Linked DNA regions of Homo sapiens. The protein of the gene in region 1 interacts with the protein of each later gene in a pairwise test. Each region holds a gene or a part of one and is shown in the gene's direction. Other genes may lie near its edges.

Evidence for each region. The genes of interacting proteins can lie anywhere in the genome.
Region 2: the proteins of SMAD9 (region 1) and LEMD3 interact in binary tests that used the Homo sapiens proteins (3 or more experiments, as listed by UniProt).

The regions. Positions count from the first base shown.
Region 1 is NC_000013.11:36,917,227-36,925,066, reverse strand, and holds the start of SMAD9 (mothers against decapentaplegic homolog 9), read left to right. Parts: upstream 1-4,828; 5' UTR 4,829-4,951; intron 4,952-5,030; exon of another isoform or gene 5,031-7,840. UniProt on the Homo sapiens protein: Transcriptional modulator activated by BMP (bone morphogenetic proteins) type 1 receptor kinase. SMAD9 is a receptor-regulated SMAD (R-SMAD).
Region 2 is NC_000012.12:65,242,569-65,248,876, forward strand, and holds the end of LEMD3 (inner nuclear membrane protein Man1), read left to right. Parts: intron 1-819; coding exon 820-901; intron 902-3,100; coding exon 3,101-3,206; intron 3,207-3,292; coding exon 3,293-3,371; intron 3,372-3,593; coding exon 3,594-3,757; 3' UTR 3,758-5,787; downstream 5,788-6,308.

The DNA.
Region 1 (7,840 bases):
GATTTTCTTTTATCTTTTTTCCCCAAAGCATAGTTTCCTGCTTCATAGTACTTATTAACCAATTTCTTCTAAAGGTAGCATTTCCTCCCGTCTTCGGTCCTTGATTCCTCCAGTTTTTTTTTTTTGCCAAAGTTTATTGATTATCTCTTCAAAGTGTCCATAAATACATCTCCTCCTCACTTTTCTAGAATCCCACAGACGCCCATCACCTCATGCCTAGAATGTTGCAATGGCTTCCTAATTGGTCTCCTTACCTCTTCTCTCTACAAACTTTTCTCCCTCAGCCCCTTCCACCTTCTAGCCTGTGTAGATTATTCTTCCTGGGATGTCACTGCCCATGTTCATCACTTTTCAACTCCACTTCAAGTTCCAGGACAACAATGAGGTGTAAAAACCTGGGCGTTGGAGAAAGGCAGCCTGGAGGGGATAGTCTGTGTGTCCCTCAGGTTCCTCAACGTAAAATGCAGATGATAATTCTCCCGTGAGAGGTCATGAGAGGGAAATGAGAGGAGGTGTGGGAAGCGCCAGTCCAGTTCCCGGTTGGGGGACTCTCACAATGGAGGCAGCATCTGATCCTCACTGCTGAGTCAAGATGGTCCATTGCTCTCTTGTCTCAATCCTTTAGAATGTATTTGGTGATGAACTGCTGTGTTAACATTGTTTTTCTTATCTATCCAACTAGTTTGACAATTCTCTTAGGAAAACTGAGGCTTTTCTACTCAAAGCCTCAGGGAATTCTGCACATAGTAGGCATTCTGCCTTCATGATTGAACAAGTTGGGCCTGCATTAGAGTGTCAGGCCAGGGTGGCAAGTGGGCTGAAGTGCAGCCTGCACTCTGCTGTGAGGCTGACACCTGCAGGGCTGCACCCACTCAGGCAGGGTGGAGGCCCAGGGGGGTGCAGGACAGTAAGTGTTCATGCTCTCAAGTTGGAGCTAAAATTTCGACCCTGTGAAGACCTCCCTGACACCTCCCTGTGCCCACTCCCCTACGGTGACACACAAAGTTGTGTGATAATCGTTGGTAGATGTATCTCTCTCTTAGGCTGCCTTTACTAAGGGCCAGTGCTCTGTGTTCATATAGTTAATTCGGGTGCCTGGTACTTAGGAAAGCATTCAATAGTGATTATGGAATGAAAGATGACTTTCAAGGAAAGTCCGAATGGGAGGCAGAAAAACTGCAGCATCAGGACAGAGTTACAGATAAAATTTAGAAAGGAGACTTGAGGTGGGAGGAGTGTGGAGGCTATGATTCCTAGTTATTACTCTGAGTGGAACCATTATCATGCTAGCTCAAACTTAAGGTACAAGAGACGTACAAAGCAGAATCTTTGCATCCATGGATGACTACAGACTTTGTTACAATCTGTTATTTTTTTATTTTTTAATACTATTTTATGTATACTCACATGAAAAAATGGTTATACTATCATGTTTACATAATACTAATATTGGAAACAGAATTCAGTAACCAATTACATTTAAATTTTATAAAGAACACACAAACATTAAAACACTGATTAGTTATAGAAAGCAGAGTTTGAGGAAAAACCATTAGCTATAATTTTTATTTTCATTAAAGAGCAGCACCCTCTGAGAAGAATCAAACCAATCAGTAATATTCATCTATATCATAAAGTAATAAGTACAAAGGAAAGCTAGTGACTGTACTGATTTTATTGCTTTTACTAAGCCATTTTATGTTCCTCACACTCAATGAGAAGAAATAAAACATAATCTGAAGAAAAATATCTCATTATTATTCGCAATAAAAAATCTGCTTCATTCTGCAGGCCTGGGCAGATTGTACAATAGAGAGCACTTAATGGCTCAAATGGATCAATGTACCAGTTTGATTCTGATCCACGGAATAGAATCTCATCCATATTTGGTGGCTGGACTAACTCCATGGGTGCTGTGACAGACTGAACTATTTTTGTGGTATCCCCAGATCTCACTAAATAAGAAAAGACCCTACACCAGAAAATATAACAATCAATCCGTCCATAAATTTTATCTATATGCTTGCTCTTCAGTATAAGTTGGAAAAAGAGGCCCTTTCTTGAGGACATGGATAAAAGTATTATGGTCTAAAGATTGCTGGATCGATATTGTGTTGTTATAATAAAGATAAGGTACACATTGAAACCACTGTCTGATTAAGAAACTTCCACAACTTGTCTCAATTCTTCAAATAATGGAGTAAGTTTCTTTTCTAGGCTGACAATTAGTTCTGTATTGGCATTGCTGCTGGCTATGAAACTCACCACCAAAGGTAAATGATTTAACTGAATCACCAGGTAGGTGTAACAGTAACAGATGATACTTTTATTTTTTGAAAGTCCAAGTTTGCTCCCGTGGTCTGTTGCAAGGGCAAAAGTAGGTAAGAAACCAGGTCTCAAAGCATGCTCTGGAGCATTATCAATGGCCACTTTAATAACAGGTACTCCAACTCTGACACAACAATAGCATGGAGCCCTTCAACACTTTGTAACATTTGATACATGAATCGCTTTAGGTCATCCGCCATGATGAACCCCCTTCTCTTGCAGGATCAATCTCCTTGCCTGGGGTTTCTGGGCTGCCCGGTTCTCTCCACTGTCACTTCAGGAACAGCTTCAAAGACCACAGTCTGGTTTTATGCTGGGTATATGGCAAATGCAAAGAATTGGCTCTCTCTTGGGGTAAGGAAGCTGCCCTTCCTACCACTGTTTTATAGCCTGAGGGAGTTCGTGTTAGGCCAAGACCTTATCATCTTTCAGAAAACAGATTTCAGTTTTGCCGTGGTTTTGAGGTCCTGAACCAAAATTTCACTGGCGGTTCTACCAAATCACAACCTCTGAGTCTCTCCTTTCATATGATTCCCATAACAGAATGTTTTGGTGGAAGTTCTATTAAGCAGTAAAACCACAGCCAATCAAGAAATCACTGGGAAAGATAAAGCGAAGTCTAGCTTTCCATTAACCAGGACAGTCAGCTTCTGTAAAATGGAGTGTCAACACTGCGCCTTCTGTCTTAGGCCAAGCATTTTCTCCTTCTTGGAACTCACCAGATCTTATTGTTCTTGAGCGTAATGGATTAACTTTCTATACTAGCCTTGAGGAATACATGATAGGAATTATATCAGTGACAGACTAATGTTTAGGCAGGAAAAAGTCATCATCGTGCAGAAATATCCTGGTATGTAAATGAGAACGTACAGAAAAGAGCAGACTAGACATACTCTAAATCAAAGGCCTGCCAAGAGTCAAGAGAATTCTGCGAACTGAGAAAGACTCCATGCCAGAAGCATGAGCCAGCGCTGCAGAGGTTATAATTTCTTTCTCTGCATCTTGTCCTCTGCATTATGCTCATATACGAGAAGGAAACTGAGATAGTGATTGGGCCATTTCTTTTCTTAATTTAATTTTTAAAAACTTGAGCCACAAGGTATCAATTCTGAGGACCTAATTAGTTTACTGGCAATAAAGTCCACATCCAGCCTAATCCTTAATATATAATCTGTAGCCCTTACCGGTCCCGCTGTTTCCTGGTGTTTCTCACCCAGGACAATCTCAAACCCAACACATAGCCGGGTGCAGAGGTATCTGGGCCAGTGTAGAAAGAAGACTTTGAGGTTAAGGCATGGTATTTAAGGTTCTGCTGCAAATGTTGTTTTAAACAAATCACCGTTCAACTACAACGGTATAATAATGCAAAAATAGCATCTGCCATGAAGAAAGTGCAGTGCTTTGAGAACTAGAAAAAGCAGTTAAATTTAAGGCCTTGCTTTACATTTCGGAGCCGCCATCGGGGCCAACTGGAGGTATGACTTTCCTGCACACAGGAGCAAGCTGAAAACTGCCCTGTGGCTTTATTCCACGTTCACCCCTGCAGCAAATGCCTTTTCTGTGAGGAACTACGGGCTGATGGGGAATCAGAGGTGGTTCTTCCTAAGTGGCGTTTCTGAGTGGGTTCCAGGAGTCCACAGTGACTTTAAGAGGCAGGCTACCTGGGGGACAGCCAGGCCGTGAGACGAGAAAGTTGTACAGTAACATTGCTGTGTGCCCATAAGTTTGTATCTTTTATTAGATTAGATAATATATCTCACATGCTGGGTTGTTAAGCAAATAAATATGTGTAAGGAAATTACAATCCACATAATTACATGAGTCGTTTTAACCACCACTCACCCCCAGAGTGATTAGATTTTCTTCTGCCTATGCCATTGCGGCCCAGTTGCTCTGTCACTGTCCATGGGGACAGGATCCCCTTACTCCGAAAAGCAAATCAGGAACAAACAGGGCAAGTGAGAGTCACTATCAGGGCCCAGAAACATGTGAGGAACAGCAGCTCAGAAGGGTCTCCAGACTGATGGGCCGGTGATCCTATATTCTTGTTGGGCTGACAACTCTTCTGGTTTCGGGCTCCAGGTGCTGGCAAGAAATCTCAGAGGTGGGGTGGGAGAGAGAGACGCGAGGCGACCCACGCAGACAAAGGGCTCCCACCCCACCCCCGGGCCACCCCGGCAGGCCGGGCAGGGGCCGAGCCTGGGGTCGCGCAGGGGGACCGAGAGGGCAGCGCGGGGCTGGGGGTGGGGAAGAGGCGGGAACCGAGCCGCAGGCCGCTGCGAGGAGTACTACCCCGCCACCCCCGCGCCGCGAGTTTCCGCGCACGTGGCCGTGGGGCCGGTCTCGCTCCCGCCCCCCGCCGGGCCCGCGCAGCCCCCTCCTCTGCGGCTCCCGGAGCGGCCAGAGCGCGCGGCGGCGGGCGGGGGCGGGCCGCAAGCAGGGCTCCCTGGCCGCTTTCCAGGTCGGCGCACTAATACGGGCGATGAGGCTTCGCGGCTCCAGTCTGACTGACGCCGGCTGGGGCCGCCGCCGCCGCCGCCGCCGCCGCCGCTGCTGCAGCCGCTGTCTCGGTCCCCGCCGCCGCCGCCGGGCCCTGCAGGCGCTGGGCGCGCGCAGCCAGGCAGTGAGTGCGCGGCGCTCGGAGCGGGCGGCCGGGGGACCACGGCGGGGGCGGGGTTGGGGGCGCCGGACCTGGGTGGGGGAGGGATGAGTGGCACGGCGGGGACAGGTAAGACGTGCCCTCCTCGGCCGCGCGCTGCTTGTGTGCGTGCGTGTGAGCGCATTGAGTGGAGGGCGAAGTTGTTCGTCCTCGGGGCAGCCTGGGAGGCTCCTCGGCGTGAGGCTTGGCTTTTGGCGGTCGTTGTTCCCGGGTTTTTTGGTGGAGCCTGTCTGGGGTGGAGTGGGGTGGGGTGGGGTGGGCGCGGGGCCGGAGGGGACTGCTCTGGGGAGTTGGCCGCGGCGCAGCTCGCCTTCCTCGCGCCTGCATCCGCCCGCGCCGCGGGCCCCGGGACCTGTCAGGGGATGTTCGACCCGCGGCGGGGGCGGCGGTCGGGTCGGGGCTGGGGCCCGGGGCGTGGGCAGGGACCAGGATAGGCGCCTGAGGGGTCGCTTGCTGTAGCTGGAGATAGGGGACAGCGGACAGAGGGGGCGGCGGGGGTCGTCATTGTGACTCTTTGGGGGCCACTTTTAAACTCGCCAGCGCCGAATTGGCCTCACTTGCCTTCTGTTTCGTAGGCTTTTTGCTTTGTTTACCTTTGAGGCATGCGAACTGAGAAAAAAAGTTAGGAATGTTGTTGAAGTGTCTCCGGGCTCGCGCTTGGACTGTGTCGGAGCCGGGGTGTTTGTCTTTTCCTTGGCCCGCCCCTCGGTGCCAGCTCTCCGCAGAGGGGAGGGGGCGAGGTGGGAAGCAGATACAGGAGACTGCCTGACGCCAGCTTTGTGATCGGAAGGAGGAGCGCTGGGAGAACATTTTTATGGATGGCTAATCGCTGACAAGTTTTCCCGTTACTATTCCTTCCTCCTCCTGCCCTTGACCGTGGACATTTGAAGTGATAGTTTGGAAATACTACGTTGACTTATTTCTGGGCTGGAGTGGGTACTCCTGAGAACTAACCTACAAAGGATACAAATCGAGTTTGGAGATAAAATTGTATGTAAATTCTTTACCCAGTAGTTTACAGTGAGAAACACACCCACAGGGCACTGTGGAGTGCTTTGGATGGATCCAGTTTACTAGTACCATTTCGGTGGCTTGCCAGATTTCTCGGATGATCTTTTGGAAATGTAGGTTAGCAAGAAGCATGGAGGCTGACCGTTAAGTCGTGAGGCATTTAATAATGCTGCCTCCTAAGCAGTAACTGAGCGGAACGTTTGTGGCACCCGTCTGGGAAAGTGAAATGTGACTACTACAAGCATGTCTCCTGCCTTAGCATTCCTCCAAGTGTGAGGGAATGCCTTTGGATGTTTACATTTTAAAAATAGTGATCTATATTTAAGAAGGCATTTAAAATAAAAGCCAAAGACATTCTCAACTCCAAATAGACAAAGATTCAATATAAGAGTTTCCCTGTGCTTGTAGGAAAGCATCAGCACAATTTTAGACTGCTTTTAGGTTTGTGGTTATCCAAGAAGGAGGCTTCAGATAAGAAAAGGATGTGACGCTTTATAAATAAGGAGCATTTTAAATACAAGATGACAGCAATTTCAAGTACTGTATCCGAAAAACAACTTTTAGTGGTAATAGTCACCTTCAGTGATGGCAAGACAGCTGTCTGCCAGACAGCCTTCGGCCTCTTAATGTATTCTGACACAACCAACTCCCATTTTTATGCTTGACTGGTTATCTTTGTCAGAGCTGTTTTATGCTTGAGCTCTCTGGTTTCAAACTATGCTTAAGAGAATGCCAACATACTCTTGATCTGAACAAACTCATGTTTATCAGTGCAGTGTTTACTAAAAATCAAAGACGTAAACAAATTTTGGGTTAAACCTCTAAGTACTTTAGAATTGCCACATCATTGTCATCAGTCTTTCAAAGTCAACATGAACTATTTGGCTTTTCTCCTTTAAAAAATTTTTTTAACTTATATATTCCTAGTTAGTAAGTAATCAGAAAATATTCACAGATGTCAACTCTTGCATCTGTGATTGCCCAAGACATGGATGAGAAAGAAGAGTTTTGTTTTGTTTTTTAAATGAAACATTACTAAAGATATCCATAAGTAATAAACAAGTGGTACACTATCTTTACTAATCATGTGGTCAGTTGGAGGGAAAAAAGTCTGTCCAGAAATTGTTTCATAAAGATGAAAATATTCAATGTCAATATGAAAATACTCAATATGTTTTCCAAATAGTTTAATTCTGATTAATGAGAGTGCACTATGCATTGCCAAACTGGAGGGATGGTGTTTCGTAAGTGAGCACCGTAGGATTAAGGTAACTACTTTATATCTGACATTCCCTCTGTAATAAATAGGACAGCAGTTTCATCATGTTCTGCTTTAATATGTGGGAAATAATCCTTATCCACAGGATGTACTCTGATTTTAGGGAAGGTAAAGGTTATGACAAATATGTGGTTTTTCTGATTTGCCAGACATACTATGCTAAATTTTAAAGCTTTAACGAAGCTTAGTGCAGACTTTCTGTATATTGTTTTGGACACTTAGAGAGGAGTTAAAGAAACGGGAAACTGTCCAGAATGAAACAGTAAATATAGCAGTACGTTGAAACCATGAATCTTCTCAAATAGTTGTAATTCTAGGCTGTTGGATTTATATTTCCTTGGTTACTGTTGCTAGTGGGTTGAAAAGTTATTCTAAAGCAAAAAAAAAAAATGCAAACAGTAAATGCATAAGTACTTAACAATACTGTGAGCATTTTCACAATGTTTCATGTTATCCTGGTGAATGTCCATGTCCTAAGTAAGGACATTAAAAAAATAAACAATTATCCCTTGGTAATAAACTAACCTTTTAAAATAAATATTCCGGTAAATTTTGTCTCTTAA
Region 2 (6,308 bases), on another chromosome or scaffold:
TCTTAATCTCTCCTTTATCCCTCTTTGTCCAACCTTTCAACAGGTCATGTCATATCTACTCCATAATATGTCCTGATTCTATCCGCTTGTCACTTGCACTGTTGGCCTGTCTTACCCACATCATTATCCTCTCCTTCTTAGACAACTATAATATAATAATAACCTTCTAACTGGTCATCTTGCATTCACTTCTGCTTTTACCTGAGTCTCCACATAACAATGTATTTTTAAAATATGTAGTTTTAAAAGACAGATCTCATCCTATTCTACTCCTTAAAACAGTTGAGTGGCTATTACTCTTACCATAATGCCCAAATACTTTTTTGTAGCCTACATCATCTTAAATAATCTGACATCTTCTGTAGGTTTATCTCTATTCTTTCTACTCCAGCCACATTTGCTCCTTCGTGCCCCAGGAGCTGTGTACAAGCAATCACCTCTGCTTGAAATCTTCCTTTACACACCTCTCTTCACCCTGCTAATTTTTATTCTTCAGTTCCCACATAAATTTCACTTTTTCAGGGAAGTTTTATTTTCTCATATGAGGTTAAGTTACTTTTAAAAAGCTTTTTGTACTTTTTTTTTTAAGGACTTAATCACAGTTGTACTTTCTTACATGACACTCTTTATCATCTGTCTCTCCCATTAAACTGTAAACTCTTTGATAGCAATGACTGTCTTACTCACCTTAACATCTAACCAGGGGTCTGGCTCCTAGTAAAAGCATGCAGTGAATATTTTTTGAATGAACTGAATGATTGAATACCTTTCAACAAACTAGAACAATGTCAAATAGTAAAACTAACTTGTTTTTTGTAGCATTTCATTTAGATAGAAGAAATTCACCACCAAATAGTTTGACACCGTGTCTAAAGATTCGGAATATGTTTGATCCCGTTATGTAAGTATTATGATCAGGGGTACATGTAACTCTTATTCTGAATATTTGGCTGGAAAATGCATGATATTCTTATAATGGTGTGTCTGTAATTGAAAATGTTTTTCTTCTGAATCTCTACCACAGAAATGTTATGTTTTTCTCTTTCATTAAATTCCAAGCAAAGATTTGGCCAAAGGACACTAATGTATAAAGATTTGTAAAACTTTTATAAATCTTTGTATTCCTTATGAATCGTCATAGCAGATAGATAAATGCTTGAGGCAAATTAATGACTCACAATGACAAAGAGTACCCTTTATTAAATGTGTAAGTCATTATACATGACTGTCAATATTTTTGCCTCAGTAGAAAATATAGATACAATCACTGCTGCTTACAAATTTCAAATCTCAAATTGTAAAAAGTTTCCTACAAAGATGTATATACCTGCTTCTCTACAAAGTCCTGTCTCCACTTGTCAATATAATATTTGAAGAACTTTTCAGACTTTATAATTCCAACAACATATGCTTCCAGAGAATAGCACAGTCAAAAGTGACTGCCTTAGAATTCACAGTATTTCATATATAAGCTGTAATAGTTCTTAGAATTAGCTTCCTGAGGGCACTGCTTATCTATCCAGTGATAGTACAGATCAAATTCTGTTTGTTTTAAAAGTCCCAACAGTGGCAATTACAATATGTATACAATACCCCCAAAGTCTCATCTAATCACTCATTGATGAAATTCCAAATAAGTGACAGCAAAATTGGAAATGTGAGGAAGCAGTATGCACACGTGTTTGCACGTGGGCACGCGCACACACACACACACACACCCCCCCCACACACACAGAGACAAACACCGCCTCTATTTTGCAGAGATAGAAACAATTAGTAGTGTGATGATACCTCTGTTGGGAATCTTACCTCATGCCTTAGGAATTGGCAAGTCCACTATTTTATTACCTAAGATGAAAATTTGTGATTTGAAGTGAAGTCACTTTCCTCTCTCTCCTGCCATCTTTGTCTCACAAGCAAGACAAATGTCCCTTACTACAGCAGAAACACCTTAAAACTGTCATTATAGTAAGGTGACTGTACAAAATGTTAGTCCTGTATCAATTATTTTGGAAAAGAGAAGCTCAAATGTAGTATTTACTAAGAATTTTCTTTAGGAATTTGAACCTATCATTACAATTAAAGAAAATAACATTCGGCTGGGCACAGTGGCTCACACCTATAATCCCAGTGCTTTGGGAAGCCGAGGTGGGTGGATCACTTGAACTCAGGAGTTCGAGACCAGCCTGGGCAATGTGGCAAAACCCCGTCTCTACAAAAAATACAAAAGAAATTAGCCAGAATTGGTGGTGTGTGCCTGTAGTCCCAGCTATCTGGGAGGCTGAGGTGGGAGAATGGTTTGAGCCTGGGAGGCACATATTGCAGTGAGCCGAGATCACGCCACTGCACTCCAGCCTGGGTGACAAAGCGAGACCCTGTCTCAAATAACTAACATTTAACTTTTACAACTTTAATAAGTTCACAACTCATTTAAAGTACTTATTAACAATAGAAAGAAAACAGAAATTACTGTAAGTACACAGGATTTTTAAACATAGGAATGACCCAATCCATTTATTCTGCAGCGGTGGGCTAGTCTTTCATTGCCTCAGCTCTCTGCACTCTTTTTTTTTTTTTTTTGAGACGGAGTCTCACTCTGTTGCCCAGGGTTGAGTGCAGTGGCGTGATCTCGGCTCACTGCAAGCTCTGCCTCCCAGGTTCACGCCATTCTCCTGCCTCAGCCTCCCGAGTAGCTGGGACTACAGACACCTGCCACCACGCCTGGCTAATTTTTTTTTTTTTTTGTATTTTTAGTAGAGACGGGGTTTCACCGTGTTAGTCAGGATGGTCTCGATCTCCTGACCTCATGATCCGCCTGCCTCGGCCTCTCAAAGTGCTGGGATTACAGGCATGAGCCACCGCGCCTGGCCAGCGCTCTGCACTCTTTTACTGGAAAGTGGGAGGAGGGCTGAGACTTCTGAATTGTAATTTTTAAATCTACCTCCTGTTAGTCAACAAGCATTTACTTAATACCAATTAAAATCGTATGTGGTTTTAAAACTATACCAATTCTAGTAATATATATATGTTGTAAGAGACAGTGAAGAATTTTTACCGAGTAGGAATATGGTTGTTGATTTTTGTTTTCATTAACTTTTAGGGAAATAGGGGATCAGTGGCATTTGGCAATTCAAGAAGCAATTTTAGAAAAATGCAGTGATAATGATGGCATTGTTCACATTGCAGTAGACAAAAATTCACGTGAGGTAAAGTAACTTTTGGTATTGAATTTCATGTTTTGGATTTGTTGCTATTAAACTAAGACTATTTTCTTTCTTTTTTAATATCACAGGGTTGTGTATATGTTAAATGTCTGTCTCCAGAATATGCTGGAAAGGCTTTTAAAGCATTGCATGGCTCTTGGTTTGATGGTAAGAAATTTGAGTACTACAAACATTTTGAAAAGATAGTTATAGTTTAATTTTAAACTATACCAGATTTCAAATAAAAGAATTTAGGTTAGCATTTTTTTGAGTAATAATTTTAGATGACTTTATTTATGTTTTGTGCTCATATGTCTTTTACCACAGTTAATTTTCTGCAAATATTAAACAGTTTTACTGATCTAAAATATTATTTTTATCTTACAACAGGGAAATTGGTTACAGTAAAATATTTACGACTAGATAGATACCACCATCGCTTTCCCCAGGCTCTCACTTCCAACACTCCATTGAAGCCATCAAATAAACATATGAACTCCATGTCTCATCTTCGTCTTCGGACTGGCCTAACCAATTCTCAAGGAAGTTCCTGAAAAGATTTTCTTCCATTTCTAAGACTGTTATTTACAATAGGAAAATTCCTGTTTGGCTTTTTGTCTTCCTTTTTAAATGCTTTTTGTATGTAATATTTTTATTGATGAATACATCTCTGAACGTTCCAGAAGTCTTAAGGTTCCAAAGGGATTTAGCAGTGAGGCAGCAATGCTGAGTAGGTAGGATAATTATTTCATTCAGTTTTTGGAGCTCAGTTAAGCCAATACATTTAAAGTTTTGCATGAGGAACACTGACTTTATTAAGCATTTTCAGATGTGGTGGTTGTATTTTTGCCCCAAGAAGTGTTTGGATAACCACACAAAAGCATGATGAAAAGGCTTCTTGTAGTCCCATAATTTCTTGTGAACTAATGTTGTGAATTTTTGTATACAGTCACCTGCATAGTTCCTACAGGCTAATGTGGTAAAACTGTTGATTTCCCAATTTAACCTTAGGTTTCTGTTGCTTATAAGCGATTCATTTGCTACGGCTGGAATATGGGAAAATTAATTTGGGCTTAGTGGTTACAAATATGTGTAAGTGGATGTATATGTACTTAAACTGGCTTTGTATATATGTATAAATGCTGGTGGTGGTGAAAGTAGTCTTGTTTTATGAGGATGTCTGCATTAAAGCAGTAAAATAAGCTTTCCATTTTATTCATAATCTAATGTGTGTGTATATATGTATGTGTGTATGTGTGTGTATATATAGATGTATATATATACACACACAGAGATATATACATATGGCTGTACTTTTGCATAGATCAAACAGCCAAACACCTGGAAGTATTAGATACAAGTTTAAAATATCTTTTATAGGTTTTATATAAAAATGTCTGAGTATGATTTTGTGTGAAAGTTCTGATACCAGTTGTAATAGAGTCAAATTTATGTGAGCAATAAAGAAGAAATTGGCAGATATTGGAAAAATATTTTGTGAAAAGCTGTATTTATTATAAATACTAGGGCCATGACATAGTACCATTGGGGTTAAGTCATTTTCCCAATCTATTTATAATTTAATGATATGTTAGTGCCTCTGTTATATGTCAAGTTTAAAGCAGGGCACATTGTTGCAGCAAAATGTGTATTTGACAAATTATACTTGCAATTTTGGGTCATGAAAGTTTGCAATATAGTAAATGCACGATTGACTGTTGCTTTGTGCCTCAGTATTTAATTTGTTTCAGTAAACTTACTTTATTACTGTTTATGATTTCAGATAAAAATAGTTGCTGAGTAAATTTTACTTGTAATCTACAATTGGCTTTTTAAAAATAACCTGTTGATATATAATTGTCAGTCCAAATGAATATGTGAAACAGCTGGAATTGTACAAATTTTGGTTGTATTTAAAGCTCAGTTTCCTTTTTGTTTTATTGTATGCGTTGGGTTTGCAGCATGAACTTGCACAGATAATGCACGTTTTCTGGTTAAGTAAACATGATGCACACTATTCTGTAACAGAAAGCCCTATTGTGCCTTACCTGTGTGCTTTTGTGGGCACCTTGTTTATGAAGAATAAAAAATGATTTGTTATCTGAAGAGAATAAATTTTAAATTCTCAGTTTATGTCTCAGATGCTAACGTGTGAAAATATAAATATATATAATATATAAAGTAACCAGTCTTCCTGTATTTTATGTGCATCATAGTGATTTATCTGAGCTTAGTGACCCCCATCTTGTAACCTGTTGCAAGAGTGAATGTAAAAAATAGTTGTGGCATTTTAAAAGGTCGCCTTTGATGCAGATGCATCTTTTTCTTGCTTCTAAAACATATTTCATGTAAACATTGTACATTTATTATTGTAATATATACTATTATGCAGCTTATTTTACCTGAAACTGTTAAGCCGACCAAGATCCCTCCCTGCAAGACAGATGGGAATGTGTATAATAACTAGGTATTTGAGAAGTTCTGAAGTTTGATGTAATCTGTTACTTGTCCTGTTAAAAAAAGGAAAAAATTCTAATTAAAAATTTATTAGTTTTTTTTTATGTGTCTTGGCTTTTTAAAAACATTTTAAGTGCCCTGTGTCTGTATTTATTTTTTTACCAGTGAAAATAGGTGTCTTTAGTTTAAATGTTTGACAGCCTGAATATTTGTGCTTATAAAGATGAATGAAGACCATAAAGTTAATTTTAACTATCCTTCCCCTCAGCATTTTATTTTTCCTTATGAAAATGTCTTCATCCAACTTTCAAGTATTTGAACCAAAATGGGGCAAGAATGTCAATCAGCTACATCACAAAGCATTAGTTCTGCTAGATACTTTTTCACAGCAAGACTTTCTTAAAAAGGAAGCATTTCTTTTTCTTTTAACATTCTGACTTGAATTCTATTGCATTATAAACTATTAACAGTTCATAGGCTAGTTACTTTACATAGCATTGGTTTAGACTTTTTGATATGTTAAGTAAAAAGAAGACTAGTCAGTCATGTGGTACACTTATTGATTACTAACAAATGCCAAGTACTGTTATGTGTTAGGGATACAAAGATGAAAAACACATGACCGAATCCTCAAGATGGTCACAGTCT